Homo sapiens: one gene and its partners. The protein of the gene in region 2 interacts with the protein of the main gene of each other region in a pairwise test. Each region holds a gene or a part of one and is shown on either strand. Other genes may lie near its edges.

Region 1 (7,030 bases), on a different chromosome or scaffold from region 2:
ATGGAGCAAATGTGTGAAATGTTGTGTACCTTCAACATCTTGGGTGGAAGGTAACCCCCACCCGCTTTTTAGAGCACAAGATTTTGGTTGAATCTTTTAGGAGACAAAACATTCTTGTTAATGTCGAAGCCAAATGTTATATAGTTGAATTACTGTCATCCTAGTCAGAGGACCTAGGGGGAATTAATTATATTCTTGTTTGGTAAAAACATGACATCTTTTAGGGTGAGAGTTGGTCTTAATCTTCCTTCTGTCAAAGTAACATTATTTTGTCATACTTGTTCAGGCACAGTTAAGAGATTAGGGCCATCTAGGAAATGAGGAAGGTGAAATGAAGCAATCAAGCTAGGGAGGTAATGGGAATTTTCATGTGTTGAAACAAATGCAATTAACACTCAGTACCATATTTCTCTCTTCATTAGGCATAATTATGATAAGACATTTCTCATCTGGATAAATGAGGAGGATCACACCAGGGTAATCTCAATGGAAAAAGGAGGCAATATGAAACGAGTATTTGAGCGATTCTGTCGTGGACTAAAAGAAGTAAGATGTTATCTGAGATTTCTGGATATTTATTAAAATAAAATTACCGTATTGTTTGTTCTTGAAAGAAGACACTATGGTAACTTCCAAGATGGAGCTAATTTTTTTCTAGAAATCAAAGCAACTGCCGCCTCCCAGGTTCAAGTGATTATCCCGCCTCAGCCTCTAGAGTAGCTGGGATTACAGGTGCCACCACCACACCTGGCTAATTTTTGTATTTTTAGTAGAGAGGGGTGTTTCACCATGTTGGCCAGACTAGCCTCGAACTCCTGACCACAGGTGATCTGCTGGCCTCAGCCTCTCAAAGTGCTGGGATTACAGGCATGAGCCACCACGCCCAGCCTCAAGGCATTTTTTGGATGAGCCACCACGCCCAGCCTCAAGGCATTTTTTGGAGTGCAACTTCCAAGGTAGTGCTTCAGAAAATAAGTGACTTTCTCTTGTTATTAGAAAGCTATTACGCTTACTTCCCCATTCCACTGTGGTTTGGGGAAGTCTGTGGATCATTACTTGTTTTTTGATTTATTTAATATCGCTCTGAGCTATTCTAAGCATACAGATGACAGAGAATGTAGCCTGACCATAGACTCACCTGCTGATAATTCCTGTATTCTCCTACTCTCTTGGCATGAAAAATGCCACCAACTAACATTCATCAAGTGCTTAGTACAGGCCAGGTACTATGTTGACTGCTTTACATCAGGGGTCCTCAACCCCGGGGCCACGGACCTGGTACAGGTCTGTGGCCTGTTAGGAACTGGGCCGCACAGCAGGAGGTGAGTGGTGGGTAAGCCAGCATTACTACCTGAGTTCTGCCTCCTGTCAGATCAGCAGAGGCATGAGATTCTCATAGAAGCACAAACCCTATTGTGAACTGCGCATGTGAGGGATCTAGGTTGCGTGCTCCTTATGAGAAACTAATGCCTGATGATCTGAGGTGGAACAACAGTTTCATCCCAAAATATTCCCTCCCTACGATCTGTGGAAGAATTGTCTTAAAACATTCATTATCTTTCAAGACACCGGTCCCTGATGCAAAAATGGTTGGGGACCACTGCTTTACATGGTTCATTTAACTTAATTGGGCCATTTTAATAGTCTGGTAGGAGAGGTATTATTTTCTCTTAAAGGAGTACTATAAATTTACCTTAATTTCATTCATGCCAGAGGAGGGTACACATCTCTCTCTCTGGTGTTAGGGATGTGCTGAATGAATGGATGTTGGAAAATGCTGTCATTTGTTCACTGTGGTTCTACTTGTAGGTAGAACGGTTAATCCAAGAACGAGGCTGGGAGTTCATGTGGAATGAGCGCCTAGGATACATTTTGACCTGTCCTTCGAACCTTGGAACAGGACTACGAGCTGGTGTCCACGTTAGGATCCCAAAGCTCAGCAAGGTACTGTTATGTGCCCAGTGGCCCTGATGGGCCAGGATCAGCTCAGATGCGACTGCTTTGTGGAGGAAGAAAACATCACTGCCCATTCCTTAACCCTTACTTTCTCTATCTACAATATAAAAATAAGAAAAAAATTAAGTTTGCCTCCAAAGACATTTGTATTAGTTAGAATAAAAGGTTCAGGGGCTGTAAGAAAAAGATGGTAGCTTCAAGAATAAGGCCTTTACATTTTTCCTCATGTAACAAATCAGGATAGGTAGGCTCTGCTCTCTCTGGTTCTTTCTATCTCCTTTCTCCATCTCTCCTAGTTCAAGCAGTTCTCAAACTTGAGCATGCAAGAGATCACCTGAAGGACTTGGTAAAACACAAGTTGCTAGGCCCCACCTGCAGAATTCACATTTCTAACAAGTTTCCAGGTGATGCCGGGGTTGTTGGTCAAGGGACTACACTTGGAGGAACGCTGTCTTAGAGCACTCTTCTTAGAGACCTACAATGAGACTTAGACTCCCACACAATAACAGTGAGAGACTTTAACACCCCATTGTCAATATTAGATCAACCAGACAAAATTAACAAGGATATGCAGGACTTGAACTCGGCTCTGGACCAAGTGGACCTCATACACATCTATAGAACTATCCACCCAAAATCAACAGAATATGTACATTCTTCTCAGCATCACATCGCACTTATTGTAAAATCGACCCCACAATTGGAAGTAAAACACTCCTCAGCAAATGCAAAAGAACGGATATCATAACAGTCTCTCAGACCACAGTGCAATCAAATTAGAACTCAAGATTAAGAAACTCACTCAAAACCGCACGAATACATGGAAATTGAACAACCTGCTCCTGAATGACTACTGGGTAAATAACGAAATAAAGGCAGAAATAAATAAGTTCTTTGAAACCAATGAGAACAAAGACACAATGTACCAGAATCTCTGGGACACAGCTAAAGCAGTGTTTAGAGGGAAATTTATAGCAGCAAATGCCCACAGGAGAAAGCAGGAAAGATCTAAAATCGACACCCTAACATCACAATTAAAAGAGCTAGAGAAGTGAAAGCAAACAAATTCAAAAGCTAGCAGAAGACAAGAAATAACTAAGATCAGAGCAGAACTGAAGGAGATAGAGACACAAAGACACAAAAAAACCTTCAAAAAATCAGTGAATCCAGGAGCGGGTTTTTTGAAAAGATTAACAAAATAGACCACTAGTCAGGCTAAAAAGAGAGAAGAATCAAACAGACACAATAAAAAGTGATAAAGGGGCTATCACCACTGATCGTACAGAAATACAAACTACCATCAGAGAATACTATAAACACCTCTGTGCAAATATACTAGAAAATCTAGAAGAAATGGATAAATTCCTGGACACATACACCCTCCCAAGACTAAACCAGGAAGAAGTCAAATCTCTGAATAGACCAAAAACAAGTTCTGAAATTAAGGCAGTAATTAATAGCCTACCAACCAAAAAAAGTCTAGGACCAGACAGATGCACAGCTGAATTCTACCAGAGGTACAAAGAGGAGCTGGTACCAGTCCTTCTGAAACTATTCCAAACAATAGAAAAAGAGGGACTCCTCCCTAACTCATTGTATGAGGCCAGCATCATCCTGATACCAAAACCTGGCAGAGACACAATAAAAAAAGAAAAATTTCACGGCAATATCTCTGATGAACACTGATGTGAAAATCCTCAATAAAATACTGGCAAACCGAATCCAGCAGCACATCAAAAAGCTTATCCACCAAAATCAACTCAGCTTCATCTCTGAGATGCAAGGCTGGTTCAACGTACACAAATCAATAAACGTAAACCATCCCATGAACAGAACCAATGACAAAAACCACATGATTATCTCAATAGATGCAGAAAAGGCCTTTGACAAAATTCAGCAGCCCTTCATGCTAAAAGTTCTCAATAAACTAGGTATTGATGGAACATATCTCAAAATTATAAGAGCTATTTATGACAAACCCACAGCCAACAGGCAAAAGCTGGAAGCATTCCCTTTGAAAACTGCACAAGACAGGGATGCCCTCTCCCACCACTCCTATTCAACATAGTGTTGGAAGTTCTGGCCAGGGCAATCAGGCAAGAGAAAGAAAGAAAGGGTATTCACGCAGGAAGAGAGGAAGTTAAGTTGTCTGTGTTTGCAGATGACATGATTGTATATTTAGAAAACCCCATCATCTCAGCCCAAAATCTTAAGTTGATAAGCAACTTCATCAAAGTCTCAGGATACAAAATCAATGTGCAAAAATCACAAGCATTCCTATACACCAATAGACAAACAGAGCCAAATCATGAATGAACTCCCATTCACAATTGCTTCAAAGAGAATACAATACCTAGGAATACAACTTACGAGGGATGTGAAGGACCTCTTCAAGGAGAACTACAAACCACTACTCAGAAATAAAAGAGGAGACAAACAAATGGAAAAACGTTCCATGCTCATGGATAGGAAGAATCAATTATAGTGAAAATGGCCATACTGCCCAAAGTAATTTATAGATTCAATGCTATCCCCATCAAGCTACCATTGACTTCACAGAATTAGAAAAAACTACTTTAAATTTCATATGGAACCAAAAAGGAGCGCATATAGCCAAGTCAATCCTAAGCAAAAAGAACAAAGCTGGAGGCATCATGCTACCTGACTTCAAACTATACTACAAGGCTACAGTAACTAAAACAGCATGGTACTTGTACCAAAACAAATATATAGACCAATGGAACATACAGAGGCCCCAGAAATAACATCACACATCTACAACCATCTGATCTTTGAAAAACCTGGCAAAAACTAGAAATGGGGAAAGGATTCCCTGTTTAATAAATGGTGTTGGGAAAACTGGCTAGCCATATGCAGAAAACTGAAACTGGACCCCTTCCTTACACTTTATACAAAAAGTAACTCAAGATGGATTAAAGACTTAAACATAAGACCTAAAAACCATAAAAACCCTAGAAGAAAACCTAGGCAATACCATTCAGGACATAGGCATGGGCAAAGACTTCATGACTAAAACACCAAGAGCAATGGCAACAAAAGCCAGAATTGACAAATGGGATCTAATTAAAGAGCTTCTGCACAGCAAAATAAATTATCAGAGTGAACAGGCAACCTACGGAATGGGAGAAAATTTTTGCAATCTATCCATCTGACAAAGGGCTAATATCCAGAATCTAAAAGGAACTTAAACAAATTTACAAGAAAAAAACAACCCCATCAAAAAGTGGGCAAAGGATATGAACAGACACTTCTCAAAAGAAGACATTTATGTGGCCAAAAAACATGAAATAAAAGCTCATCATCACTGGTCATTAGATAAATGCAAATTAAAACCACACCGAGATACCATCTCACGGCCAGTTAGAATGGTGATCATTAAAAAGTCAGGAAACAGTTGCTGGAGAAGATGTGGAGAAATAGGAATGCTTTCACACTGTTGGTGGGAGTGTAAATTAGTTCAACCATTATGGAAGACAGTGTGGCAATTCCTCAAGGATCTAGAACCAGAAATACCATTTGACCCAGCCATCCCATTACTGGGTATATACCCAAAGGATTATAAATCATTCTATAAAGACAAATGCACACGTGTGTTTATTGAGTCACTGTTCACAACAGCAAAGACTTGGAACCAACCCAAATGCCCATCAATGATAGACTGGATAAAGAAAATGTGGCACACATACACCATGGAATACTATGCAGCCATAAAAAAGGATGAGTTCATGTCCTTTGCAGGGACATGGATGAAGCTGGAAACCATCATTCTCAGCAAACTAACACAAGAACAGAAAACCAAACACTGTATGTTCTCACTCATAAGTGGGAGTTGAACAATGAGAACACATGGACACAGGGAGGGAAACATCACACACTGGGGCCAGTTGGGGGGTGGGGGTTTGGGGAGGGATAGCATTAGGAGAAATACCTAAGGTTGATGATGGATTGATGGGTGCAGCAAACCACCATGGCACATGTATACCTATTTAACAAACCTGCACGTTCTGCACATGTATCCCAGAACGCTTTATTTAGTTAATCTATATATTCAATATATATATCTATTATAAATATATATATTTATTATATATATAAAAAGTTAAACTGTTATCTCTCACTATATGTCTTTTGTCAGTAAACGCACCAATGATTATGAATCAATTTTGCCTCTTAGCACATTTAAGTATTATCCCTTTGTCCTAGGACCCACGCTTTTCTAAGATCCTGGAAAACCTAAGACTCCAGAAGCGTGGCACAGGTGGTGTGGACACTGCCGCGGTCGCAGATGTGTACGACATTTCCAACATAGATAGAATTGGTCGATCAGAGGTAACGTCTCTCTCACTTTCCTAACATGAACTAACAAAATCAGCCTAAGAGAGAATAGAGAAAAGCAAACAGCCTAGCCGTTTTCACAAAATTCGAGACCTCCTCTTCGCCCATTGAGTCCTGAGTTATGTTAGCTTTTCATTCTGTAACATTATTCTTCCATGGGAAATAACTGCATAAAGGGAAACATAATGTGAGCTGAGAATTTATAGGCAAGTATAGGAATTCACAGTGGGACTGTTGTCACCGACCTGCCATGAGAGCTATTCCAACAATCCTCAGCGAGCAGGAGCTCTGTTATGCTAAAGGACTGCAGTTTTTTTATTACTGTAAAGTCAGAACATCTATGCTATCCCTCTGAGGGTGGCAAAATAGTGGAATTTTCTCTTGGTTCTGAATTTTCTTTGGTGAAGGCTACAAATGATCATCTTCACTTTGGTGTTCTTAGATACTCGATGGTTTCTAAACTTTTATTTCTTAGGCTAAAGATAGCAACTATGTTATGTGCTAGGTTTAGATAAGTTTGTGCTCATAAAATCCTTAGGATTCTGTGATGAATATGTAGGATGAAAAGGATTCATAGACTTTGTGTGGCCTGAAACAATGAATGAGGCAAAAAGATCACATGTAAGGAACATGCAGCTGAATGCTAAGCAAATACTGATCATGGTAAGTTATACCAGCCTATCTGGATGTGGTCCCATTGGACATATTATGCCCATCA
Region 2 (6,338 bases):
ACATGGGATTCATGTGAGGATTAAATAATTTAAATAAAAAATGCTTAGAATAATTCCTGGGAAAAAAAAAAGTGCTCAGTTAGATTTGGGTGTCGCTCTGCTAGGTCAGCCATCCTCCTTCTCCTCCATCAGTGTGTCCTGAGTGTGTAGAAAATGGTTGTCCATTTATTTCATTTTTCTTGAGTTGGGGTCTTGCACTGTCTGCCCAGGCTGGAGTGCAGTGGTGCAATCAGATCTCACTGCAGCCCCAAACTCCTGGGCCCAAGCAATCCTCCTGCCTCAGCCTCCCAAGTAGCTGGGACTAGAGGCATGCACCACTGTATCGGCTAATTTCTTTTATTTCTATTTTTTGTAGAGACAGGATTTCACTGTTGCCCAGGCTGGTCTCAAATTCCTGGCCCCAAGCAATCCTCCCACCTCAGGCTCCCAAGTCACTTCACCCATTTCCTCCCAGTCCTGGCACAGCCCTGCATACGTAACTGATACATAGAACTTAGATAACAAAAAGTGACTGAAAACTACTTTATTTGAAGACATTTTCTTCTATAGTTCTAAACACAAAAGGAATGCTGTTATAGTGGGTATTTCATAGGCATTCTTGTATTCAAATGAATCACATAATGTTTACACTTTTAAGCTAGACTTGAAATTGAAGACTTAATACAACCTTTTAACAAAGAAAGTATCAGTCATATCAAAACATAACTATTCATTCTACAGATTATCACTTTCCCTAAAATGACTACTAGATATGAAAACATTGCAGGGACAGCTCAAGTGCCCCATTCTTAAGGGTTTTTTTTAATAGGAAAAATGACAACGTAAATCACATTTTCCTTTTCTTTACTAGTAATGAACTATGGCAATCCATTTGAGAAAGCACCAGCCAACCGTACAAGTCATTTCAGCACCCTTTGCTCTTCAAAACTGACCATCTTTTATATTTAATGCTTCCTGTATGAATAAAAATGGTTATGTCAAGTACAGACGTCAGCAACGTGTCAGTTGGTGTGAATTTATGATGTGTTCCTAAGTCAACAGAGAAAATAAAAAAAATCTCTCATGTGAATAAAATCTAAGGATGAAAAACTATCCTTTGATAATTATCACAAGGCAAAATCAACCACCTTTTCATCAGTACTAGTGTGGAATGGAAATTTCTTTATTAATACTTTTTATGGGAATGTTTTAAAGGCATAGGTATAAATGCACATGCAATCAGCTTGCCCCTCTTAGATACTAACTTCCCCAGCTTCACTCCTCCTTTTCACTGGAACAAGCTGCTGAATCCCTAACTCCAAAGTCTGCAGTGCTTGGTGAGCATTTTTAAATAAAGATTATATGTGATTTTCACTTTTTCACAAAAATGAAGTACAGAGAAGACTGAAAAGCAGTGAGAAAAAAATCATAGAGCAAAAAACTAAAACACAAGATGTGATGTTCAAATTTAAAAGAAAAACAAAACTGGTTCGTGATGATTGTTAGTAAATCACAAAAACAAAGGACGGACAGGGCCAAGACCGAAGGGACCACCAGACCACCGAGCCCCAATGTGCCAGACAAAAGTGGGCATCTTTGAGAAGGACGCCCTGGTGAAGACAATTACAGTGAACCTCTTTATAAGGCCGTAAGCTCTTCAAGGTCATGGGCCGTGACTTATTTATGTCTGTATTCTGTTCTTAGCATTGTCTTGCACATGACAGACACTCAGTATTTCTGGTAACCACAGAACTGGAGCTCAATCAGCTCACTGCTTTCAAAGTCATTTTGGTTGGTGTCTACCCACTTAATTCTTTCACTCCTCTGTCTAAGGCAGGGATGGCAAATAGCCTTCATTTCACTCTGATGGACTGGGAATAGATGTCTGGAAGCACCAATCTGACATGGATTCTAAGACCAAATCCTGGCACAGAGGACAGGAATGCTGCACTCATTCATAATGCCTCCTTAAAAGAGCGGTGGCACAGGTGTTATATATTCCCCATTCCTGGTCTAGGAAAAAGGCATCCAACACCTACTTATATTCCTTTTACATTGCTATGCTGCCTCTTGAGTGATCTGCATTAAGCCACTGTTCGTTAAATGCTGGTTGATCAGGAAGACCAAGGCCTTTCCTCTCAATTTACGTCTTTGGCCAAACAGGTAGGGTCAGAACTTCACCTGGAAATCTGAAAACACATCATCCACAATGCTCAATAGGCAACAGTCCATTGAAAGAGAACAGGTATTTACTTGATTACTCCCTTTGTAGAGAAAGAATTTTGCCCATCTCAATGGTGTGTAGCTTTCATTGATATCTAAGGCATTTGGAATTACTTAGGATCTTGGTGTTAAAAAAAAAAAAATGGCAGGGTTAAATTCTCTTTGGTTCTCATTCTAATCTTAAGACTTCTGTTTGTTTCTTCCTGGTACCCATAACCTTCTCAGCACTTCGTCGTTGTGACTTAACCAATACTGTTGAAATAATCAACTCTTTCACACATTCATCAGAAAACCTTTTAAAGGATGCTAAGGGGAGAGGCCTCTGAAAATAAGTGGGTTGAAAGGAAAGCCAGAGAGAATAACAGGAAGAACCAACCTTCTAACAACCCACACACAGGACTCTCTACCATTCAGACTGCTATCTATAAAATAGGGTGCTTCTGGTCGGGGGGCTGCCACCCCAGGTCCTCCAAGCAACCCTTTTCCCCATAGTGGGAGGTCAGCATCCCTCAGAAGCATCTCAGGAAAAAATGATAAAGCATTTAGAGAATTGGGAAGAAAATAGAGGGATACTATCAAAGAGTAAAGGACAGTCCTGGGGGATGAAGGGGGATTTTCTTTTTTCTTTTTTTTTTTTTGGAGACAGAGTCTTGCACTGTCGCCCAGGCTGGAGTGCAATGGCACAATCTCGGCTCACTGCAACCTCCGCCTGAAGGGAGATTTTCAAAGCAACATTGCCTCTATCATAGGTAGTCTTCAATGTAATACTGGCACCAACAAGAGAACCGAGCTAAATTAAAACTACCCTCAAAATGTCATCACAGCTGATGTGCACAGCAGGAAGGACGATGTCACAAAATGCACAGATCTGTTCCTATTGCACATTCCACCTTTCCCACGTACTGCTGGCAGCCCAGAATAACCAAAATCTTTTTAGATGTCTGTCTTAAAGAGAGCTATAATATGCAAACATACACACACACACACACACACACCCCCACACACACACACAACCTCAAACCTGGTTTATAAAAGAGCTTTGTGGATCAGAGTACACCCTCACTTGGTCCAAGAATCTAATTGTCAACATTAGGCAAATAGACCCAATGAATGTAACCAGGAAGAGAATTAACTGGTTGGCTGGAATATTGTATTTGATATGATATGCTTATTTGCAAACTAATCTCCAACTGTTTGTCCAGTACTAATTCAACTGACTCATCTTCTAAATGTATAGGACAAAGCCTTTAAAAAGTTAAGCTCTTCAGCAACGAAAAGTTAACACCATCTAAAATAAATAGATTTTAAAATATATGTAATGAAATTACAGGTCACTGGAAATTCAATTCTACAATGAATATAAATTAACATTAAAATCTATTAAGTACTATTCCTGGGAAGATTTTGGTTCAGAGGTTTTATTTTTTTAAGGGCTTAATATTTGGGAATAAATGGGCATAGCTTAGAAACCCTTACAAAGTTGTAAGTAGACTAGAGGTAAGATTATTTGGTGACAAGATACAAAGATCTGTTTCTATGTCCAAAATAATGGCTTACCTCATTTTAGTTAATAGAAGTATTCCCAAAAAGTTGTGCAAATAGGCTTTTTATAACTGGACGCTTATTTTAAGTATACTAGAGGCCATGGTTGTAAAGAAAACCTGTAGTCACTCCTCTAATAAACTGAAGAACTCTAAGTGATTAGCCCCTGTCCTACATCTGCACAGTGGACGGCATACTCCAGGCACTCATAAGTGTTTGTTGAATGCATGAATTCGCTCTGACAGTTTTTTTTTTCCCCTACAGGACTTTCTTAAAGTGAGGCACATGCTAACTGAAATGGTTCTGCCCGCTGTTACTGCAGAAAGATGGAATCCAGCTCACAGTTTAACTGATGCCATTACAAAATATCAGATAATTTCAGAGTGTTTTCAATCAAAATAAAATTTCCATAAGTATGAGTGTATGTATTTTTGAGGAATGTTGATCTATGATTGGCAGAAGCTTTTATTGTTAACTCACTCACTGAAAACAACTGCTTGAGCTGAATTCTATTTCAATTAACAACCAAGGCAAGTAAAGCACTTTACCTAACTTCAGAAATACCACCAGAAACCATTCCACTTCTGTAACAGCTTCTTCCCCTCACTCCAGCACAAATATTTAAATGCTGTCCTTACCTTAGTCCACAAAAGCAAAACATGAATTACAAAGCTAAGATTAAATTAGAAAGCTGCCGACTTAAATATGACAAAGTTTTTTTAGCCTTAAAATAAGAACTAAGTCAAATACATTCAACAAAAGTAACTCTTAAAGGCAAATTTTTTTCTTATTTGGTGTTTTCTTCCCTTCCCATTTAAATTTAAGACTCAATTTTTAATAATATTCATATGTCCATTTTTCTAAATAATATATCCTCTTTAAAACAATACAGAATGCCTAGCAGTGCAACCTATGTGTCCACATAAATATGCAACCTGCCACATAAATAAAATAAGAGGTTTTATCAGTCTATTTATCCAGCATTTGTAACTGCAAAAAAGGCTGGAAAAATAGCTAAGAATATTTTTATGCAAGTTTTGGGGAGGACTGAACACTGGTAAGGATTCACTGTAGGGCTCCATCATTATAAGTTTCCTAAAAAGTAGTGTGCAAACAAAATATCTGAACACAGAACCCTAAACATACTAGATGTATGTGTGGGTATGGGTGATGGAGAAGAGAGAATGAATATGTTAATATGAATGCTTGTCAAGGACACTGATAAGAAAAAGAAAACCTCTCACTTAAGGTGCTAATGATATGTCAAGGGACCTAAATACAACAGATTTTAAAATCATCTTTACCATTTGTCCCAATTATTGACTTTGGCCCTTTACCACACAGACACAATGAATCTACATTTTGATGATCCGTCATTGGCCCAAGAGTATCATGTTTGGAGATGGATTTGCTCCCATAATTTAAAAATCAATAATTTAAAAAATAACAAAGTTGGTCTCTTTTTTCCACCAGTTTTCAAGTAATTAGTTCAAGTAAGCTTATTTACAGCTGCTACTGTATATATGTGACCTACTTTAACCCTTCTTTACCCTTTAGGAATTGGTCTCCCTTGGAATGGGACACCACATTTTAAAAAAAACTTGAACCAGGTTTTTTTCATCTACCAATTCAATTCAGTCATGTTTCTGCTTTATTGGGCAGATAAAGAGAAGAAACCAGCAAGTTATGTCCAAAAGCTGGAAAACGCCGAAATGCTTCCCAACTATCTGAAAAGATGTTGTACTTGAGGAACACTCGGTGTTCCAAGCTGGTCGACAGGGTGACGTCTCTGCTCATGATGTAGATGCCGTCGTTATGGAGCGCACAAGTCAAGTTAAGACCCGATTTGGACGTGTTCTCCTTGAGGTAGAGCCACTGGCGGGTGACGGTGTTGTAGGACTGCACGGTGAGCATGTCCTCGCTCTGGCTGCTCCTGCGGTTGGGCCCCAGCTCGTGGAGACACCCCCCCACGATGTAGATGGTCTCTTCCACAGACACCATCTGCTGCTTGCGAATGTGGACGTCACATGTTTCAAAGAGCGTCCACATGTCGGAAGAGGGGCAGTACTGCAAAATGTTCATGTTCCGGTCTGAAAGAAAGAAAGACAAGTGATGACACCGCCTCCACTAACACCACTAGGCAAGTCTGTACAGAAATGTCTACCTCTGCCTGCATAATTTGGTAACAAAGAGAAAAAACTCTTTCAGAAAAAGCACAAGTTAGAAAAACAGTTTTCAAAGTGGCTGGGAAGAGATATATTTAGATCCATCCGCACTCACCTCCCACTCCCAAACGTCTCTTCCGTGGGAGACTCAGACTGGATAAAACCAGGAAAAAGCGCAGCTCTGACTTTCACACAGCCCCTCCTCCCTGGTATCCCCACACCTTTGAACCACCAGGTCAGTGTAAAAAAAGTAAGTGCCTCAGAACCCTCATCAATAGCTACAAAATTACCGACTACTTAATACAGAAGCCAGGCTGGGCAGCAAGTAGATTATTCTTGATAGCTGATCCTAAGAAACATGACAAGTAGCAACACAGGATCTCCAGAGGCTGTCTAGTGAAAAGGACACAACGTTACAAGTCAGGAGAA
Region 3 (7,030 bases), on a different chromosome or scaffold from region 2:
CGCTCACCTCAGCCTCCCAAAGTGTTGGGATTACAGGTGTGAGCCACTGCACCCAGCCTTATGCCCAGCTTTTTTTTTTTTTAAAGACAGGGTCTTGCTGTGCTGCCCAGGCTGGTCTCAAACTCTTGGCCTCAAGTGATCTTCCTGCCTCAGCTTCCCAAAGTGCTGGGATTATAGGCATGAGCCACTGTGCCTGTCCCTTATTGTCCTTTAAAAATAGGAGCGGCCAGGCGCAGTGGCTCAAGCCTGTAATCCCAGCACTTTGGGAGGCCGAGGCGGGTGGATCATGAGGTCAGGAGATCGAGACCATCCTGGCTAACATGGTGAAACCCCGTCTCTACTAAAAATACAAAAAATTAGCCGGGCGTGGTGGTGGTGGCCTGTAGTCCCAGCTACTCGGGAGGCTGAGGCAGGAGAATGGCGTTAACCCAGGAGGCGGAGCTTGCAGTGAGCCGAGATCTCGCCACTGCACTCCAGCCTGGGCAAAAGAGCAAGACACGGTCTCAAAAAATAAATAAATAAATAAAAATAAAATAGGAGCAACACTGAAGGGGGTAGACTTTCAGGGTTTTGAGCTTTTAACTTGGTTCTGCTCCCTTATTTCTCAGCTCTCTATCTGAAGTCATAGGGAGAACCTGTAGTGAAAGGAAAACAAGGGATAGGGCTTAGTATTCCATCATCATCCCTTTCTAGTGGTATTTATTGAATTAATATATAAGCAGCACAAGAAGAAAAGATTAGATAGGACCAAAATAAGAAGGAGAATATAAACTACTTCTTTTCTGCCTCTGCCAGAGAAGTGCAGTAGCAGCAGGACTTTTCCTAGTCACCAGAGATTGTCGTCTTTGTTCCAGGGGACATTTTAAAAATAAATTTGTTGTGTTTTCTAAAGAAATGAAAAATCTGTGTGGCAATTAACAGTAGTTTTGCCATATTTTAGAGAAAGCATTAAATATCTCGTTACACATCTACTTTGTTTCAATGCAGCATGTTAATGTTCAGTGAATAATCAAACTGGAAAAGATTAAAAAGTATTATGATAGATGTGGCTGTATGTTTAGTTCAGACACAATTTTTTTTAATTTTTTGTATTTTCAATTTGAAGTTGGTTGAGTGCACGGATGCAGAACCCATGGACATGGAGGGCTGAGTGTATGTCCACACATTCTACAATGGAAATCATTGTCCTTGATAATTATCCCTTGATATGAGCAGATATTATATAATGAAAAAAGGCAGAAACTATGACAATTTAATCTTATTTTTGGTTCATAAAAAGAATTTTGTTAAAGGAAAAGATCTAGAAGAATTAGAAGTCAGATTGAGGCCAGTGTGGGGGCTCACACCTATAATCCCAGCATTTCAGGAGGCTGAAGTGGGAGAATCATCTGAGCCCAGGAATTTGAGACCAACTTGGGTAATACAGTGAGACCCCATCTCTACAAAAAAATTTTTTAATGATTAGCTGGGCTTGGTGGTGTGCGCCTGTAGTCCCAGCTCCTCAAGAAGCTGAGGTGGGAAGATCACTTGAGCCTGGGAGGTCAAGGAGGCTGCAGTGAGCCACGGTTGCACCACTGTACTCCAGTCTGGGTGACACAGTGAGATCTGCTCTCAAAAGAAAAAAAAATCAAAGTGACCATTCTGATATTAGTTAATTTTTTGAGTGAGAACTCAACCATTAACCATTTTTCTTACCAGTTTCAGTTTTTGAATAGGCCAACTGGCATTTTTTCTTGTTCTATGGCCACAGCTGCAGATGCAGCTCCTGTTCTGGGAAATGTTTCCTGTTCTTCAACAAATTCTTATTGACTATTATTTACCCTTGTCAAGTATTCAAAGATGAATAAAATATCCTTTTTTCCCTTGAATGGATCATGTTTGTTATTCCTACTAAGAAAAACATCTCTACTGTTAGAAAGTTAAATTGTACATTTCATTTTTGTCATTGTACAGAATGAAATTTTGTAGCATTTTATCAGCCTAAGAAATTATATTGAGTAAACATGTAAATTGACTCCATAAAAGTTTAGGTAGATTTGTTGAAGAGAGATTCATAGTCTGGACTTAACTATGTTCCAGACTATTCTAATCTTATTTCCTCCTGTCCTCCAAAGGTAATTTTCTACCACCTGATCAAGTTGCTCTTTTGCCTTATTACTCTGGGATTGTGTCTCAAATCTTTAAGGGGATTTCAAACACAGTGATCATGTCTTTCTACTGCATTTTCCTGGTGTTTCATCAGCATGCTGGGTTTTGTGGATCAAATTCCTACGGTTACATTTTAGTTATGCATTTGTTAGCATGGCACTAATTTCTGTAGCTTTCTGGGTGACTTGTAACTGATTTTTTTTTTTTTTAATTTGAGACAGAGTCTCGCTCTGTTGCCCAGGCTGGAGTGCAGTGGTGCAATCTCGGCTCACTGTAACCTCCGCCTCCTGGGTTCACACCATTCTCTTCCCTCAGCCTCAGCCTCCCGTGTAGCTGGGACTACAGGTGCCCGCCACCACACCTGGCTAATGTTTTGTATTTTTAGTAGAGACGGGGTTTCACCGTGTTAGCCAGGATGGTCTCGATCTCCTGACCTCGTGATCTGCCTGCCTCGGCCTCCCAAAGTGCTGGGATTACAGGCATAAGCCACCGCGCCCGGCCTGATATTTTTGATAATAGAGTTTGACCTGCTTAATGCAGTCATTCTTACCAGAGAGAGAAGACTTTTCGTTGTTGTAGTTCAGACATAACAGACTCTAGTAGAGGAAAAGTGACAAATCTTGATAGGACTCAGTCCAGGCTATTTACTTGGTAGTCCTGTGTCTGTCTGTGTGCCTCTGCTTGTTGCCTCTCTGTGTTTATGTAGAAAGAACCACATTCAGTAAAAAGGCTTGTGGATGTTTCAGGCCAGATGAAAAGTGGTTGCTTAGCTTTTGTAAATTTGACAGTGCAAAGAGAGTTCTTTATTACTCCCAGGGGAACTATCAAGTAGAAAGAGTTTGCTCTGAAGCTTCTTGGGCAAATTTGAAGATGCTTTTATTTGGGTTTGTTGTTATTACATAATAAAGCATTGGTTTACTTTCTCAAAATCAACCAACCAACAAATGAGCTGTAGAGATTAGTCTTACTTACACATTGTTTTTACTTGGATTTTCAAGGATAATTATTTAAGTAGGTTTTTTTTTTTTCAGTTGACACTTTCATGGATATAAACAAATGAAAATGTGTGTGTGTGGTTTTTTTTTAACAAGTGTTTTTAAATTTCCATCATATTGTACTTCATAGAGGTTCTGAGCCTTGCCTGGGTACTTTCTTTTATTGAGATTTTTAATTAAGGCCCAGATTCTTACCCAAATTGAGAATTTTCTTTTTAATAATTGAATTCTCAACAAAAAACCTAGAATGTGTGAAAGTAAATTCTCTCAGCACCGAAATTATGAATTGATTGCATTTTATGAGGTGTGGAAGGACTTTTCCCTAATATTATAAAGTCATATTGTCACCAGTAGAGGATTGTGACTGCAAGTTGTCCATGTTCTTAGCATTTTGAACAAAGAATTGGACAAAATGCCCAGCAAAGCAAAGAAAGATGGAAGCAACAAAAGAACAAAAGCAGGGTTTTATTGAAAATGAAAGTACACCCCACAGTGTGGGAGTGGGCCTGAGCAGCAGCTCAAGGGCCAGGATACAGAATCTTCTTGGGTCCAAGTACCCCCTAGAAGTTTCCCATTGGCCTTTTCGTGCTCACCTCATGTAAATGAAGTGGAAGCTCACAATCAGTCTGATTGGTTGCAGAAAGCAGCCAACCAGAGGCTGAAATGAAGTTACAAAGGTAACACTGCTGTGCAAACATCTGATTGGTTGCAAAAAGCAACCAATCAGAGGCTAGGGTGAAGTTACAAAGTTATATTTCTTTGCAAATGAAGACTCCGCCCACAGTCAGTCTGATTGGTTGTGGACAGCAACCATTCAGAGGCTGAAGTTACAAAGTTGCAAATGGAGACTGGACCTGTAATCAGTCTGATTTTTTTCGGACACCCAATTTCCCATCTGCTGCACAGAAAACGTGGGGGGTTTGCAAAGGAAGTAGCCTCTGGTCCTTTTGTTACTTAGGTGTGGAAAGTTAGGGTTGGTTTTCCTTTCAATTTAGTTATAAGAAGTCAGCTTGAAAATCAGCCTTAGATTCCCTGCCTCCAGACCCTATTCTCCTGCCTCAATATCAGCCTAGCTATTACAAGGATTAAGCAGTTCTTCCTCTTAGTTTCCCTTTGTGAATATTCTTTCATTAAATATAAAAAAGCCTTTTAATATATTAATAGAAATTGTGCTAAATTAAAAAAATAATTTATATTACTAAATACATGCTAAAAACTAGAAGAGTATTATAATACTTTTCTTCTACATCAGGAAGCATTCAGAATTGTCTGAATTGAATGTTAAAGTCCTGGAAGCTCTGGAACTATATAACAAATTGGTGAATGAAGCACCAGTGTACTCAGTCTATTCAAAGCTCCACCCTCCAGCACATTACCCACCTGCATCATCTGGGGTTCCAATGCAGGTGAGCATGTTTTTTGAGAACATTTTCTAAATTATAAACAACTTTTAAAAGTAAAAGAAAATGTTTTATAGCATAGTATTAAGATTTCTTTTGTCTGTGAATAAAATTATAAAATTTATCTTTGATTGTTTCAGTAAATATTGGCTAAACAATTAACATTCACCAGAGCAAATTAGACAGATACTGATATTTCACAAATACATTTTAGTTCAGTTTTAACATGGATGAAAAGACCATTAAATATGTGAGGGTAGTTCTGGTTCTTCATATGCTTTTGTAAGTATAAAGCATAAATCTTTTATGTAAACATAAATCCTTTTTGTAAATATGGAGTATAAATCTTTTGATTTAGGACAATACCTGACATATCAGAAGTTCCCCAGGTGAGGTACTAACGCTTTCCTGCTGCTCAACAAGATTTAACATTTCTTTACAAATTTCCATAAAGATTTATTTGACTTACATGATTATTAACAGGCACAATGAACTTCTAGAGTATGCTTTATACTTCCTTTACTTAGCTGCATGACTTACATTGTTAAAAATCTGTGCATAGCAAAGATATGATACATGTCTAGGAGGTACAGACTCCGTAAGCCATCCATGAACATCCATAAGCCATCTTTTTCCAGTACTTTTCACCTTTTTTGTGTGCTTGCCATGTGAAGCGAATACTTACATTTGTCAGTATCCCCATTCGGAAGCGTTTTTTGAAATTTCAGCCAATTAGCCAATTGAATTCAGAATGAGCTTGGATGAGCAAAATTCATGTTAATTTATGAAAACTGGTATGTAAAGGTGCATGTGAAGGAGACACCAAGGAGAAAGGGTAGAATGTGGGTGCATAATTTAGATGACTTGACACAACATAATTGTTAAGTAAAAAAAGAATAGTCACTATGGTAACTGTCACGTCAGACAAGATACATTTATCAAATATGCCATGCCTTGATCTTTTTGAAAATTAGGAGGGTAGGAAAGATTTTTCTGGCTGCAAAAGACCTTTGGGATTTATTCAGTTTGCTTCTGTTTTCAGAGTTGTTCGCTGCTGCTGTGAAAGTGGAACAAAACAGCAGTGTCTGCATCATTGTATGATAAAACTTTATGTTTGCTTTTTTGTGTGTCTGTAAAGGGTTATTTGCCATTCTGTGTCAGGTTTTGGTGTTTAGTTGCATTCTACTTACTGCGTTTTGCCAAGCACAACTCATGTCTCTAAAAAGTTAACTTTCTGTTTGATTCCTCACGTAATCTGTACCTACACTGTTCACTCAAGAGCATTTGAAATATTCAAAAGTTTCTATTCTAATTTGACAAAAATATATCTCTACTAGAAGCAGTTGGGGTAACACATTAGTTATATTGTGTAGGCTACTCAGGAACCCTAAACTGCAGAAGACGCTGATTCTCACAGTCTCAGCCTATTGTCAGTAGATTGTTACATGTCTACTAAGGAGGTAATGTGATTGTACTTAATATAGCTTATTTGGCATTTCTAGCATTCTAAATTTTCAGATGAATGGTATTTACTTTAAAAATAGCTTAATTTAAAACTGGATTGATGATCATTATGGTATGATATGATATTAAATGTATGCATTGTTTTGATGCTATATTTAGTAGACAGGTGGTAGACCCTGTCCTTAAGGAGCTGTTGTCCTGAAAATAAGTAGGGCACATATAAATGTCCAAAGAGACCTAAACCATTTTTGCTGTTTCCTGAGGATACATGTCTTTTGCCCATAACTCTTCTTTACTTTTGTCCTGTTTGTCTTAAAGGTAGAGAATAAGGTAGACATTGCCAGGGAAGCCCTGGCACCCTTATACCATTTCTTTTTCAGCTTTTTCTCTCAAGTTTCTTTCTTAGGAAGGAGTTGGATGAGTCATCCAGGGATGAGGGTAAAGAAGGTTATCATTCTTATAGTGACTTTAAGTGATGGTGGGCTTCCCTTCAAGGGAGTGTATAGTTTTCTGTGGCTCTACAGCAAGACATCTTTACTGAGTAATAGGCAACCTGGATAGATTGCAATCCACTACTTAAAAGTACACCACCTGTCTTTCTCCCAGCTCTCTGTAAAAATAAAAGAACAGCCAAACAAATCAAATTTCCATAGATTTGGCACTGTGATTTGACAGCTCTCCACTTTTAGTTCTAAGATGGATAGATTGGTAGAATCAGATTGCTTCCCAAAGAAGTATAGTTTCTTTCCTTTAAGTCTTTTAACATTTTAAATATATTATTAGGCACATGTTTGGGAGATGAGTGAATCAACTTTTTCTTTCTGATTAATAGACATATCCAGTTCAATCACATGGTGGAAACTATATGGGTCAGAGCATTCACCAAGTAACTGTTGCCCAAAGCTATAGCCTAGGACCCGATCAAATTGGTCCACTGAGATCTCTGCCTCCAAATGTGAATTCCTCAGTGACAGCACAGCCTGCTCAAACTTCATATTTAAGGTAAGTTTTGGGAGCTGTGTT
Region 4 (7,030 bases), on a different chromosome or scaffold from region 2:
TGTGGACTGAGAAAGATTTGTGACCATGTGGTAGTTTGCTTTTACTTGGGGTTAAGGTAGAAGAGACCCAGGATCTTTAGAACCATGGAATTTTTGTTTAGGAAGAGATCTTCATTCTTAGCCACCTGATTTTACAAAATAAGAAACTAAGGCCCAAAGACTTGACAATTGTCATGAAAAATTAGGGGGAAAGCCAGGACTGAAGACTAGATGTCTTCTCTTCCAATAAAGCACTCCCTCCACTCTGCCCCTAGTCCCTTATTATATGATAGAAACAGCACCTCGGAGCTGAAAGGGTCCTTGGTGAGCATCTTATAGGTGAAAGAGCTGAAGCCCAGAGAGGTTCAGTGAGGTCTGCTAGACTTACCCAAGATGGAACCACAGGAAAGAAGCCACCTCAGCACCTCCCCAGCAGGGCTTCAAAGCCTAGGTCCTCAGGCACTGTCCCTTCAACTTAGAAGAGTTTAGAGTCTTTAGGAGAAGTTATTAAAAAGACTTGCCTTTTCTGAGCCCAGGATCCCCTTGTGTAAAGTCCAAGGATTGGAGTCCCTTGATGATCACTTGGGTTCCGTAGAACGATTCCATTTTGTGATTCTAAAAGGAGACAGTGTTGTTCCTGAATGACTCATGTTTCAAGTTTTTTTCTGTGAACAAAGGATCTGTCACTCTTTTCCGGAGGATTAAAAGGCAGCACAGTTTATTTACATGGGCAATTGTGAGCTTCTTGGGGCCTGACTTCTCAGCCCCATTCTTAGCTCCAGCTTTTGTCCATCCTGCTGAGGGACAGACATGGCCCAGGTTCCAGGTTGATGTGAATCTTTGTGATCCCTGACTTCAGGTATTTTCAGGCAGAGGTGGCCTTCCCCTAGAGCCCAGGAGAGAAGGAGGAGCCAACTCTGCAGAGCAAAGTTTTTCAGCATCCTAGAAGATGACGATCTCTGAATGGTGTTTTGTATGGTCAGCATCCCAGAAGATGAGGGTCTCCGAATGGTGTTTTGTATGGTCAGCATCCCAGAAGATGAGGGTCTCCGAATGGTGTTTTGTATGGGGTTTTCACCTTCAAACTTGGTGGGGAGGGGAGGGAACATGATGGAGGGAAGTCCAAGAAGAGAGTGAGAGAGAGAGAGATAAGGAGAAAAAGAAATAGAGCAAAAGAGAGAAAGACAGAAACAGCAGCAAAAAGATACCCTGGATTCTGTGTGAGAAGACAGAAAAGCAAGTAGAGTAGCAATAAAGAGCAAGTGAGTTGAGGGTTTCCATCTCTGTGCACCTGCCCATTTCACACAGACAGCTCCAAATCCCAGGCTGTCAGAGCTAAAAGGGACCATGTGGTTCTAGCCTCTTATTTTATAGATGAGAGCCCTGAGACCCAGAGAAAGAAAAGATGCCCAGAATCATCCATGCAGCCCTGTGCACCAGGACTGAGGGAGCTGCCTCTGGGGCCAGGGCTTTCTGGGTGGAGCCCTGTTCTCTGTTTGTTCTCATCTCTGTTTCCAGCCTGGATTCAGCCCATCTTTGTCTGGGGAGTCGTGACTGGGACCTGCTGCCTTCTAGCAATGCTTTTCTGCCAACTAACTGGAAGTCTCTCTTATTGCCTTGGTACAGGATATACTGCGGGGACACCATACAAGGTCCCACCGACCCAGAGTAACACTGCTCCACCCCCCTACTCCCCATCACCCAACCCCTATCAGACGGCCATGTATCCAATCAGAAGTGCCTACCCCCAGCAGAATCTGTATGCCCAGGTAGGTACATGTCAAAGCCACCTCTTCTGCAGGTAGAGGAGCCTTCAGCCTGGGTGCAGTGTGGTGGGGTAGGGTGAGGAAGTGAGGGAAGGAGAGGATGGTTTGTGGCTCTGGCTAGCCGTCCTTGTTGTATCACTGAAGCAATATCCCTGCAGTCTGCTTACTCCCTCACTCCACCTCAGCCCCTAGAGGGGGTAGGCATGAAGTCATTTAGATTAACAGAGCCCAGAATGTCAGAGGACAAAGGCCCTCAGAGATTTTCTAGCTCAACTCCTTTGTTAAACAAGTGAGGAAACTGAGACCCAAAGAGGGGAATGACTTGTCCAAGGTTACACCACGAGCTATTGGTTGGTCAAGGTGAGACCCCAACGTCTTAGTCTTTTCTCCCTAACCCCCACATCTACCCTTCCTCAGTCTGTGAGCTGAGTGGGGAGGAGGAAAGTACACAGGCCCTGCCACCAGTATCCTCTGTGACCTTGGACAAGTTACCCTCTCTTTCTGTGCCTGATGGGCCTTTCTGGGCTCCTTCAGCTAGAAGATGTATGCATTCCAGGATTGGTATGAGAGAGGGGACCATATGGGGCTCTAGCACACCCATGACACATTCTTCTGGAGTGACTCTATAGGAAACATAAGTGGTGAGGAGAATACTTTTTTAGTTTAAAAAACAGCTATATTTTAGAGTAGAAGACAAAACTTAAATTGATCTCAAGCCTCTTGTTTTATTTTTTTTAATCTCATTTAGTAGAAACATTTGAAGATTTCTGAATTAAGATGATCTCAGGGGCTCCTGTTTACTTCCCCTACAAGTCAGTGGGCCAGTGGATTGTGGCAGCAGGAAGCAGCCATGTGATTCAGGCATTGGGAGTCACCTTGGACCACTGTCTTCTTCATCCTTACCTTTTTACCTAAAGGGAAATAGCTAGTTAAGAGACATCCTGGAAAATGCTATCCATGTATGCCTTTTTTTTTTTTTCTTTTTTCTTGAGACGGAGTCTTGCTCTGTCACCCAGGCTGGAGTGCAGTGGCGTGATCTCAGCTCACTGCAACCTCCGCCTCCCGGGTTCAAGCCATTCTCCTGCCTCAGCCTCCCAGGTAGCTGGGACCACAGGCATGTGCCACCATGCCTGGCTCATTGTTTTGTATTTTTAGTAGAGATGGGGTTTCACCATGCTGGTCGGGCTGGTCTCGAACTCCTGACCTCAAGTGATCTGCCTGCCTTGGCCTCCAAAGTGCTGGAACTACAGACGTGAGCCACTGTGTCCAGCCGCCATTTTTTTTCAACATGTACTTTTTTTTTTTACAACATGCACTTACACCATTATGATACTACTACTAATTATCCTTTTGTGTATGTGTTCTGGAGTTTACCAGCCCTGTTCACATGCTTGGTAACTGATTGATTGTTATTCCTAACTTTAAATTTTAGGCAGCTTATAAAAGTTCATTGCAGTAAGATAAAACATTTTAAAATGCTAAAACCAAGGTTAAGGGAGTAGAGCTCTTATCCCATTAGATCATCATAGCAGCCTTATGAGCAAGGCAGGACAGGATTAGAGCCTTATTTTTCAGACCAGAAGCTGAGCCCAGCACTGCACTGACCACAGTCACATAGTAAGACAAGCAGAGCCCCAGCTGGGGTCCGGACCTTGTGTCCTTCAGCCAGTGCTGCTCTCTCCATATCCCACCTACCTCTCCAAATGCCTATGTGACCTCAGCCTCTTTCCCCCAGGGAGCCTACTACACACAGCCGGTGTATGCTGCCCAGCCTCATGTCATCCACCATACCACGGTCGTCCAGCCCAACAGCATTCCCTCTGCTATCTACCCAGCACCTGTTGCCGCCCCGAGGACCAACGGTGTGGCCATGGGCATGGTGGCAGGCACCACCATGGCAATGTCAGCAGGTGAGGGCAGCATCTGCATCAGTGTCCATCCCTTTCCTCTAGGAACTCAAAACGGAGCAGAGAACACAGTCATAGAATTGGCTGCAGCACAGCACAAGAGATCCTGTGCCAGGGGGCTTGGGAACCCAGAGGAAGGAGCCTCTAAATCTGTCTATGGGGATGAGGAAGATTTCACCAAGAAGGACGTATCGAGCTAGGCCTTAAAGGGTGAACACAGGCTAACTAGAGAAGTGAAAGAGGGAAGGGTGGTGCAGAAAGAACATGAACATGGCATGTTCACAGAATGGAGGAATGGAGCCAAGGCCCTTCGGAAATAGGGGCTTGGAGTTGGAAGGTGGCTGGATCGCTAGCAAGGATAAGATGGTGGAAAGTCCTGAATACCTTGTGGTACCTCTGTTGCACACAATGGGGGTCAAGCAGGGCAGGGATGTGGTTAGGTTTAAACATTCTCTGGCTGCAGAGTGGAGACAGGATTAGAAGGGGTGATCTGGAAGCAAGTAGGTCAGTGAGGAGGCTGTCAGTGTACTTTAGGGGAGAGAGATGATGCTAGCACTCCAGTAACAGCAGGGGCGCCAAAAAAGAAGACACAGGGGCAATGTTCTTTATTAGGCAGGAGCTTAAGGACCTGTGCAATAATTATAATAATTATGAGGGATGACAAAAGCAGAAGTCCCCAAGGACTGTTAGGTTTTTTTTTTTTTTTTTTGAGACAGGGTCTTGCTTTGTCACCCAGGCTGGAGTGCAGTGGCACGATCTTGGCCTACTGCAGTCTTGATCTGCTTGGGCTCAAGTGATCTTCCCACCTCAGCCTCCCAAGTAGCTGGGACCACAGGCATGCGCCACTACACCCAGCTAATTTTTGTGTTTTTTTGTGGAGGCAGGGTTTCACCATGTTGCACAGGCTGGTCTTGAACTCTTGGGCTCAAGGGATCCACCCACCTCAGACTCCCAAATACTGGGGTAACAGATATAAGCCATTATGCCTAGCCTAGAGACCCAACTTTTAAAGAACCAGCTAGGATACCATCTGAGGTAAGAAAGTACAAGGGGTAGAGTGAGCATTTGGATTTTATTCTGTCCCTAACGTAAGGGTATGGTTGAGGCCTCTTACTCCTCAGATCAAGTTGGCAAACTGTTGGATATCTACTCAGTGCCAGCCTTGTTCAGGTCCTGGGAACCCAATATCAATAGATCAGATCAGAACACTGTCCTTAAGGAACACCCAGGTTAGTGTGGGAAACACAGCCACAGACATCACAATTACTACTCAGTATGATTGTGCAATAAGAGAAGCATACAAAGAAAAGTAAAAGGAAGGCCGGGCGTGGTGCCTCATGCCTGTAATCCCAGCATTTTGGGAGGCCGAGGTGGGCGGATCACTTGAGGTCAGGAGTTCGAGACCAGCCTGGCCAACATGGTGAAACCCCATCTCTAGTAAAAATAAAAAATCAGCCGAGTGTGGTGATGGGCACCTGTAATCCCAGCTGCCCAGGAGGCTGACGCGGGAGAATCGCTTGAACTCAGGAGGCAGAGGCTGCAGTGAGCTGAGATCGCGCCATTGCACTCCAGCCTGGGCGACAGAGCGAGACTCCGTCTCAAAGAAAAAAGGAAAAGGAGGACTTAGAATAGTCATTGATTCTGTCCTCAAGCATCAGAAAAAATTCCCCTAAGGAGGTGAAGCCTGGTGAGGTGGAGAAGGGCAGAAAACAGGTCATCAGGAAGGCGAGGGAGATGGGGGATTTGGGCAGAGGGAGCAGCCATGTGAAAGACTGTAGCTTCATCCTCTTCATTCCTGTGTCTGGTGCAGCCTCGTCAGGTTACTCTTCTCTCTCTGGATGCTCAGGTACCCTGCTGACTACACCCCAGCACACGGCGATTGGGGCACACCCTGTCTCCATGCCAACATATAGGGCCCAAGGAACCCCTGCGTACAGCTACGTGCCCCCACACTGGTAAAGCCTGCAGCCCATCCAAGTGAGTGTGGCCAGGGTGAGAGAAGTGGGAGGGGGATACATACAGGAACTGCCTCAAAGTCCCTGGTTTGGGTCTGGAGCACAGGTGTCAGCTAGGGCAGGTAACAGCTGTCAAGTTACCAGTTGCTTTCCTGCTCCAAGGTCCATAATATCACTCTTAATAATAGCTATCACTTCTGTTGACTGCTTGTTGAAATCTAAATAATAACAGAAATAATAATAGCTATCCCTTTGCTTATGTTATCTCATAATCCTTATAGTTGCTCTGTGAAATAAGGATCATTAGCTCTATTTTACAGATAAATATGTAGTTAAATATCACTTAGCCAGTAAAAATTAAGCTAGGGCTTAAACTTCAGTTCTCTAGTACTAAATTCTGTGCCATTTACCTTATGGTCTTCGGACTTCTTTTAACTATGGGCCCCATTCTTCAAATGAACTCTTGCCCAGATCATATGTTAAGAGCTTTGGTTGGAGCTATTTGGAGGCTTTGGGCTGACCCAGACCTCTGGCTTCCTTGGTCCCCTCAGCAGCTCCTGAGGCAGTGACAGTGAACCATAGGGCTCCAGGGATGTCACTTTGAAATCCTCTGGCCCCCCACATCATCTGGCCTCCCCCATCTCCTCCAGGGCTCTTGGCACCAGAGCACAACAACTTCCACAGGCGGGAGGCAGGCAGCTTCACTAGGAAGGCACAGCGGGCTCCCGAGTTGAGGGGAGAAGCCTCCTGAATATCACTGACACTGTTTCTTTCCCCTTTCCCTCTGCAGATCTGGAGTCACACATTGTATGCAACTACTCAAGTCTTACACCGGTGCTGGAGCAGTTCCCTAGCAGCACCACCTCTATTTGCAAGAAGAGACAACGGAAGTGCAAGGGTCACTTTATGCATCTTTAATGGTTTTGATTTTTATTTTTGGTTTTTGTAAAAGCTGCTTTTTCTAATCTCCTGCCTCTCCCCAACTGTCCCCCTCTTAGCCCCTGCCCTTCCAGCTCTATCCCCTTCCTCCTACCTGACCAGGCCATGTCCTCTCTGCTCTTCCCTAAGTGTCCTGTCCCTGGGGATCCCAGTCTAGAGGCAAGCAGAGAGTAGGGTTTATTGCAGTGGTTCATCTGAAGGCTGGATTCCATTTGAAGAGCATAAACAGATGTGGTCCAGGGTAGGAACTCAGAGCTGTTGAGCAGGCTACATCTCTAGGGGAGTGTTCTGGTTGTTTTTTCTTAAGCAAGATTAGTTCAGGACATTCCCATGTCCCAGACACAAATGAAATGTCTCCTGAGAACCATTGCAACAGACCAAGAACAAAACCACCTGAGTATGTAGGCGTGTTATTAGCAGCTTAATACCCCAGGCTGAGAACCTGGGGAAAAAAGTCTTTAGAATTTGGGGGAGGGTGGGGGGA

The links.
Region 1: the proteins of KLHL42 (region 2) and CKMT2 interact in binary tests that used the Homo sapiens proteins (3 or more experiments, as listed by UniProt).
Region 3: the proteins of KLHL42 (region 2) and STAM2 interact in binary tests that used the Homo sapiens proteins (3 or more experiments, as listed by UniProt).
Region 4: the proteins of KLHL42 (region 2) and FAM168A interact in binary tests that used the Homo sapiens proteins (3 or more experiments, as listed by UniProt).

The regions. Positions count from the first base shown.
Region 1 is NC_000005.10:81,257,311-81,264,340, forward strand, and holds part of CKMT2 (creatine kinase S-type, mitochondrial precursor), read left to right. Parts: intron 1-422; coding exon 423-546; intron 547-1,809; coding exon 1,810-1,944; intron 1,945-6,180; coding exon 6,181-6,306; intron 6,307-7,030. UniProt on the Homo sapiens protein: Reversibly catalyzes the transfer of phosphate between ATP and various phosphogens (e.g. creatine phosphate).
Region 2 is NC_000012.12:27,797,211-27,803,548, reverse strand, and holds the end of KLHL42 (kelch-like protein 42), read right to left. Parts: intron 6,303-6,338; coding exon of another isoform or gene 6,259-6,302; exon of another isoform or gene 5,835-6,258; coding exon 5,383-5,834; 3' UTR 509-5,382; downstream 1-508. UniProt on the Homo sapiens protein: Substrate-specific adapter of a BCR (BTB-CUL3-RBX1) E3 ubiquitin-protein ligase complex required for mitotic progression and cytokinesis. The BCR(KLHL42) E3 ubiquitin ligase complex mediates the ubiquitination and subsequent degradation of KATNA1.
Region 3 is NC_000002.12:152,123,745-152,130,774, reverse strand, and holds part of STAM2 (signal transducing adapter molecule 2), read left to right. Parts: intron 1-4,395; coding exon 4,396-4,549; intron 4,550-6,839; coding exon 6,840-7,009; intron 7,010-7,030.
Region 4 is NC_000011.10:73,406,112-73,413,141, reverse strand, and holds part of FAM168A (protein FAM168A), read left to right. Parts: intron 1-1,605; coding exon 1,606-1,748; intron 1,749-3,480; coding exon 3,481-3,655; intron 3,656-5,498; coding exon 5,499-5,611; 3' UTR 5,612-5,629; intron 5,630-6,397; 3' UTR 6,398-7,030.